2 linked regions of the Homo sapiens genome follow. The protein of the gene in region 1 purifies or fractionates together with the protein of each later gene. This does not show direct contact. Each region holds a gene or a part of one and is shown on either strand. Other genes may lie near its edges.

Region 1 (4,422 bases):
AACAGCTTTGATTTTGAATTACGTTCGCAGCATTAAACCATCAAAGAGTAAGAGCCAGCAGCTTTGTCTAGCATGTTTTTTGTTTTTTTTTTTTGAGACGGAGTCTCGCTCTGTCGCCCAGGCTGGAGTGCAGTGGCGGGATCTCGGCTCACTGCAAGCTCCGCCTCCCGGGTTCACGCCATTCTCCTGCCTCAGCCTCCCAAGTAGCTGGGACTACAGGCGCCCGCCACTACGCCCGGCTAATTTTTTGTATTTTTAGTAGAGACGGGGTTTCACCGTTTTAGCCGGGATGGTCTCGATCTCCTGACCTCGTGATCCGCCCGCCTCGGCCTCCCAAAGTGCTGGGATTACAGGCGTGAGCCACCGCGCTCGGCCTGTCTAGCATGTTTTAACAGCTTGACATATTTACATACTGTATCATTCTCACCCGTCTTAAGTGTACGATTTTTAGTACATGTATAGTGCAACCATCCCCACAATCCAGTTTGGAGGCATTTCCATCCCACCGAAAAGATCCCGAGTACCTGTTTGCTATCAATCCCCTGGCGGGTTCCCACTTGCAGACCCAGGTTTGCCTAATTATTTTCAGTGTTTTTGCTAAGTCGAAATGACCTTACAGATCCAAGATAACTCTCCAAAAGAAGTCAGGACTAGGATCCCAATGAATATGAATATGAAGCATATGTTCATCAGTACACCAAAGTTATGTCAAGGCTGGGTCTGTATGTGAAATTCCTTAATCCATTGCCTGAGCAAAAACACAGGTTGGCTGCTCCACATAAAACTTACTTTCTAAACGGGGCAAAAGAAGTAAGCGCGTGCCCCCATCCCCGGCACGCGTGCATCTGAGTAGGAGGTAAGCGCACGGCATGTGGCCGAATTTGATGAGTAATGGGCATCCAAGACAGGACCACGGCGCTGCTGTGTGCGCCTGCGCAGCTTCGCGAGCGCCTAGACACAAGTAGCCCAAACCCCGGCTCGAGATCCGTCTGTTCAGCTGTTGTGGCGCCGCCGTTTTGGATCTAAGCGCCTACCCGTGACACCCAGAGAACCCAGGCCTGGCAAGTAAACCCTCTACCCCCTCACTTTCTCTACCCAGCGCTCACAAGGAGCAACAAGATGACAAGACCGCGCGCCCGGGCCACCAGGGAAGCCGCTCTCTCGCTTAGCCACACCCCCTTGGTTGCTAAAATGCCTAGTCCCTGCCCCTCGGGTCGACGCCAGCAGCCACGTATCACGTTTGTACGTGTCTCGGCCTAAAAGCGGAAGTTACGCAGGGACTCGCGAGCGCTGTGGCGGCCCTGAAAGGATATAGGCCGTGGAGGGAAGGGGGCGGGCAGACGGCATAGGAAGGCGCCGGAAGTGGTCCCGCAGAGGCGGGGTGGGAGTGGGGCTCCCGAGGCAGTGCAGTTGGCTGTAGCTGGGCGCCTCGGTTAGGTGCGCTGTCAGTCCTTTCCGAGTGCCTGGCCCAGTCTCTCCCGCCTCGGCCCAACATGGACTTCAGAGAAATTCTCATGATAGCTTCCAAGGGACAAGGTGTCAACAATGTGCCGGTAAGTAGCAGCTGGGGCATCAATGTAGGGGACCCTAGTCTTCCAAGTTCGGAATGTGTGTGGCCCATGGAACTTCTGGGCAGCCGCCTATCGGCTCCGGGAGAGGAAAGACCCGGACGCCTTATTTCCTTTTCTTGGGTTTATACTCTTGGGAACTCGGGAGAAAAGAGCTTGGGACGAGACGCGGGAGCCTTCCTGTGAATGGGTTTCGCCGGCTTATTTACCCCTGCAACAGGGACTTTGCGGTTTGGGTGTTGTAGCTAGAATTGCGTGAAAGCCGTGAGTGAGCTGTGCCTGGCACGCTGTGGATTCTAGCGCTGGTAGTTTTTGGCTTCCACATAAACTTCAGCCTAGAGATTGGGAAGGAAATATGTATGTAAGGGAGTTAGGGGGTTTGGGGTCCTTGGCTTGATAGCTTTTTGGCTGGCTTCTCATCGATCTTCAAGTCAAACGTTTAGCGATTTCTTGAAAGAATTCTCTGACTCGGCCCCACCCACTCAGCCACCGAGGTGATTAAATTATCACCTCCCAGGGGATAGGTATCATCTTTTGGGAAGAGAAGTTTAGCAGATTCCACGAAATCCTTGGCCAACAGAATAGGTGAGCTAGTTTCAGCTTCTGTTTACTTGTAGCCTTCCAGATTTCAGTCTTTGTTTAAAATCTAGGTCCCATTTGGTCAGTAGATGTTTGTCAGTTCGCTTACAGTCGCAAGAGCGGTGTAAGACTTAAATGGTAAAGTGGTGGAGAGCGCCTGGTTTCTGGGGGTTATGGCTGTTTTGCATAAGCTAATCATTTCCAGATTTTCAGATGGTACCCACAGCACAGCTGTAAACCGATAAGTTGCATGGTGATGCCTGCGGTTTGAGCAGTGAGGTATAGAACTAAAACGGCTCTCAAAGTCAATTCAGCTAGAATTTATTGAGCTCCGACGAAGTGCTCTGCATTTCCTAGATATTCGTATATTGCAATATTCGTTTTTTTCTCTTCTGCAGCTTTTTTTTGTCTTCTGAGGCTAGTTCATTCTTTTATCCCTTTGAAAATATTGATCTGAAAAAGGTCTATATTTATGTTTATAAATATATGTATATATACACACACACAGCCATCCCTTATCCCAAGAACTCTGAATAACCATTCCTCTAAGCCGTGAGTCATAAGCTTTGCATGTTGAAGGTATAGACTCAAACCTTTGAAACCCAGATCAACAGATTTACTTTCTAGAAGCATCTGTAAATTTTCCAGATGAATCAATATTGGGTCTAGTAACCATTCATCTTTGCATAATTTGGTCTGTATTTCATTCTAGATCTTATTGAATTTCAGTAAAGGTCAAAGATAGTACTAGCTTTGATGCCCAGTACTGTTCTGTGGAAGAATCAGAACTAAGTCATTTCTTATTCTGAAAGCCAGTAGCTGCTGGGAGAAAAGCAGACAGATAATCCTAAAGCAGAAAATTTCAAAATATGTGTATATGTCATAATATATGCATTATCTATGATTGGAATAACAGAAGAATCAAAAAGGGGAAAAAAGTAATTTAAAATTTAATAGATGGGCGCAATGGCTCAGGCCTGTAATCCCAGCACTTTGGGAGGCCTAGGCGGGAGAATCACCTGAAGTCAGGAGTTTGAGACCAGCCTGACAAATATGATGAAACCCCATCTCTACTAAAAATACAAAAATTAGCCGGGCATGGTGGTGTGCGCCTGTAATCCCAGCTACTTGGGAGGCTGAGACAGAATTGCTTGAACCCAGGAGGCGGAGATTGCAGTGAGCTGAGATCGTGCGATTGCACTCCAGCCTGGGCAACAAGAGAAAAACTTCATTTCAAAAAAAAAAAAATCAATAGATAATATAGCCATATATTTTATGAATCATGCATTCTCTGACCTCTCCCCGCCAAAGCTAGTAAGCCTAGAAGTTTGATTTAGTTACCAGCATTATAATTCTTATCTTTTTATGTGGAATTAAAGTCACAAAAGAAACTATTGAGGAATAGGATAAGACTGTAGTTAAATTTCTTCTTCTTCTTTTTTTTTTTTTTTAAGATAGAGTCTCACTCTGTCGTCCGGGCTGGAGGCTGGAGTGCAGTGGCATGGTCTCGGCTCACTGCAGCCTCCACCTGCTGAGTTCAAGCAATTCTCCTGTCTCAGCCTCTTGAGTAACTGGGACTACAGGCACCTGTCACCACATCAAGCTAACTTTTGTATTTTTGGTAGAGACAGGGTTTCACCATGTTGGCCAGGCTGGTCTTGAACTCCTTCCTCAAGTCATTCGCCCACCTCGGCTTCCCAAAGTGCTGAAATTACAGGTGTGAGCCACCACACCCGGCCAAATTTCATGCTTTACTTGATTTGCTTTAACTTGATTCATCTAACTGTTCTATTTACTTTTTCCTTATCAGCTTAAAGTAATTTGGACACTTTCAAACATAAGGAATGTTAACACATTTCTAATATACCCAAACCCCGTATTTAGCATATTAACATTTCCCCATATTTATTCCATCTATTTTAAAAGAAATAAAGCTTTTTTTCTTTTTTTGCCATCTATTTTAAAAGAAATAAAGTGTTTGGTGGTTTTTTTTTTTTTTTTGTTATCTATTTTAAAAGAAATAAAGCTTTTTCTTTTCTTTTCTTTTTTTTGAGATGGAGTCTCTGTTGCCCAGGCTGGAGTGCAGTGGCGAAATCTTGGCTCACTGCAAGCTCCGCCTCGCAGGTTCAAGCCATTCTCCTGCCTCAGCCTCCTGAGTAGCTGGGAATACAGGGGTGCACCACCACGCCCAGTTAATTTTTTTGTATTTTTAGTAGAGATAGGGCTGGTATCAAACTCCTGGCCTCAAGTGATCAGCCCACCTCAGCCTCCCAGA
Region 2 (2,526 bases), on another chromosome or scaffold:
TTTTTTTGAAGAGAGAAAGCAAATGTATCTAACTGAAGTTTAATGCTGTTTTGTTTTTATATTACTTTTTACTTTTAGCTTCTACTTAATAAAAAAATCCAGCTTGTATTGATGGGAGGGATATAAAAAAATTGCGACAGTGCTCAGCAAATGACTGGTGTTTGGGACCCGTGGCCTCTAGATTTAGCGGAGTTTCGATCTGTGATCTGGGCTCCATGCCTGAGACAGAAAGTCATGCCCTCAGTCAGCCCGACTTGAGACCGATGTGAAGCGACTGGAGGGGGCCCTCTGGGACATTTGCAAATGACCACGCCCCTGCTGTACTGCAAACGACGACTGGGCAAGGAGGAGCTGACCACAGGAGGCTCGGACTGGGAGCCAGAAGATTCCCCCGGGGAAGCTTCAGAAAGCAGGAAGAGCAGCTGGTTTGGGCAGTCCCAAATGCCTGCTCTAGCTCTGAGTATCGTTACCTAATCCCTGTGAGAGAGTGGGGAGCGGCTGTGCAAGTTCCGAGTGCAGGTATGCTACCTGTTAGGATTTTATTTTTTTATTTTTATTTTTTTTTGAGACGTAGTCTCGCTCTGTCGCCAGGCTGGAGTGAGTGGCGCCATCTCGGCCAACTGCAACCTCCGCCTCCCGGATTCAAGCGATTCACCTGTTAGGAATTTTAACATTCAGCGCCCAAGCGCAGAGCAGAGGAGGCTGGAGGGGCGCAACACCGCCATCTCGCGGCGACGGGGTGCACAGCGCTTGCGAGGACCCAGACTGGGATCCATCTGTCCCAGAGACTCATTTTCAGCATCAAAGTGCGTCCCTGCGCTGTCCGTAAAGAGCCTGCCATGCGGCAGGTACCGCGCAGGACTCCAGACCTGCCTTATCTTTTGAGATCCCCACAGCCCCTGAAGGAAGGGACCACTAATATCAACATTCACAGGACGAAATCGGAGGTGTCCTTGTGTTCACAGCTGGGCAGCCCACCCAGCTCAAGGGGGGACTTGGGGAACGCTGTCTAGCCTGCGAGAGGTGGAAGTGGGCTCCTGAGAAGGGCGGCCGCGTGTGGCTTCACCGTCCCCTTTTGGGTTTAAAGGGAACTTCCCCGGATGGATTAGGTGTCACGGCAGCAGTGTGAGAATGGAAGCGCCCAAGCCCGTCCCCTCGGCCAGCCCCTTCAGCTCTCTGGGCCTCAGTGTCGTCACCCGTCAAACGGGGACAGGGACCCTCCTTCCCAGTGCAGGGTGGGGTCCGAGTGAGCTAGGGCAAGCCAGCGTTCAGTGCAGGGCAACTGGGGTCTGAGTCCTTGGGGAGCTGGGCTTGGAGAAAGTGAGATCTCGTGGGCTCTGGGAGGGAGGGCCTGTGCTCTGTTCCCACACAGCACCCCCAGCGGCAGGGCTCCTTGGGGAGGCCAGACCAGGGCCAGGCGTGGCCAGAAAGACCCTGCCTTTAAGGGGCTGTGGAACCCTGGGCAAGGAGTGTACCCAAGTAACCAGCGTGGCCCCAGGCCAGGGGTCCCCTCTGCAAGTGTCACATTGGAGGGGGCCCTGATGATCTTGCAGACCCTGCAGCCACCTCGGGCCAGAAGCGAAGCAGGGTCCCTGCCCTCAGAGAGCGTCTAGTCTAGTGGAGATACACACATGAAACTGCCTTGTTTAGAAGCTACCAGGAAGGAGAGGCCCCAGTGAGAAGACGGCAAATAAAGGGGGACTGTGACCTAGTCAAGCCACCAGGGAAATCTTCCTGAGGAGAGGACGATGGATGAACTTTGGAGGCAGAGTGGGCATTGCCTGGGAGGCAGGGAGGGGAGAGCGTTTCAAGAAGAGGGAGGAGCATGTGCCACGCAGGAAGGAGGGAGGACAGGGAGTCCCAGACTGAGGGAGGACAGTGCCAGGAGGGCCTGGAAAAGCAGAGGGGAGGGTCAGGCCACAGCAGGCTTGAGAGGCCACGGAGGGGGCTGTGTGTGACAGGGAGGGTGACGGGGATGGTGGGAGGTAGGAAAGGAGAGGAGAGATGGAACCTGATTTGCATTTCACAATGACAACTCTGCCTGCTGGGGTGGAGAAGGATCTGGAAGAGTCTGGCGTAGGCAGGTGGGCAGAGCACCTGCGAGGTTAGTTAATGCACATAATCAGGAAGGAGACTTTGTAACCTGGGCCAGGGAAATGAAGAGAACAAGGCCAGTGGTCTGTCCAGGGGCCCGGGGACGGGTGGGAGGTGGGGGTGAGGGGAGCCCCAGGGATGGCACCCAGGCTTCTGTGTTACACAGTTGGAGGTGGCCTCGCCAGGAAGGAACAGCTGGAGGAGGCCAGGTTTTGGAGGGAGGGCATCTGCATTCAGCCTTGGCCGTGCTGAGCCTGAGCTGCTGCTGAGCTATGCAGGGGAAACACACAGGTATGGGGTGTCTGTGTCACCAGTGAGGGGACTGTGCAAGTGACTGTCCTAACTGAACACTTCAGAGTGAAAAGAAGCTCTGTTAACAATGATGCCACACCAGGGCCCCAGACAGGGCCTGTCCCCGGCAAACAGGGGCAC

Evidence for each region.
Region 2: the proteins of SPTY2D1 (region 1) and MLYCD purify together in Homo sapiens (affinity purification with mass spectrometry; one large-scale study listed by BioGRID and IntAct). This does not show direct contact.

The regions. Positions count from the first base shown.
Region 1 is NC_000011.10:18,631,329-18,635,750, reverse strand, and holds the start of SPTY2D1 (protein SPT2 homolog), read left to right. Parts: upstream 1-1,408; 5' UTR 1,409-1,493; coding exon 1,494-1,553; intron 1,554-4,422. UniProt on the Homo sapiens protein: Histone chaperone that stabilizes pre-existing histone tetramers and regulates replication-independent histone exchange on chromatin.
Region 2 is NC_000016.10:83,925,037-83,927,562, reverse strand, and holds the end of MLYCD (malonyl-CoA decarboxylase, mitochondrial), read right to left. Parts: 3' UTR 532-2,526; downstream 1-531. UniProt on the Homo sapiens protein: Catalyzes the conversion of malonyl-CoA to acetyl-CoA.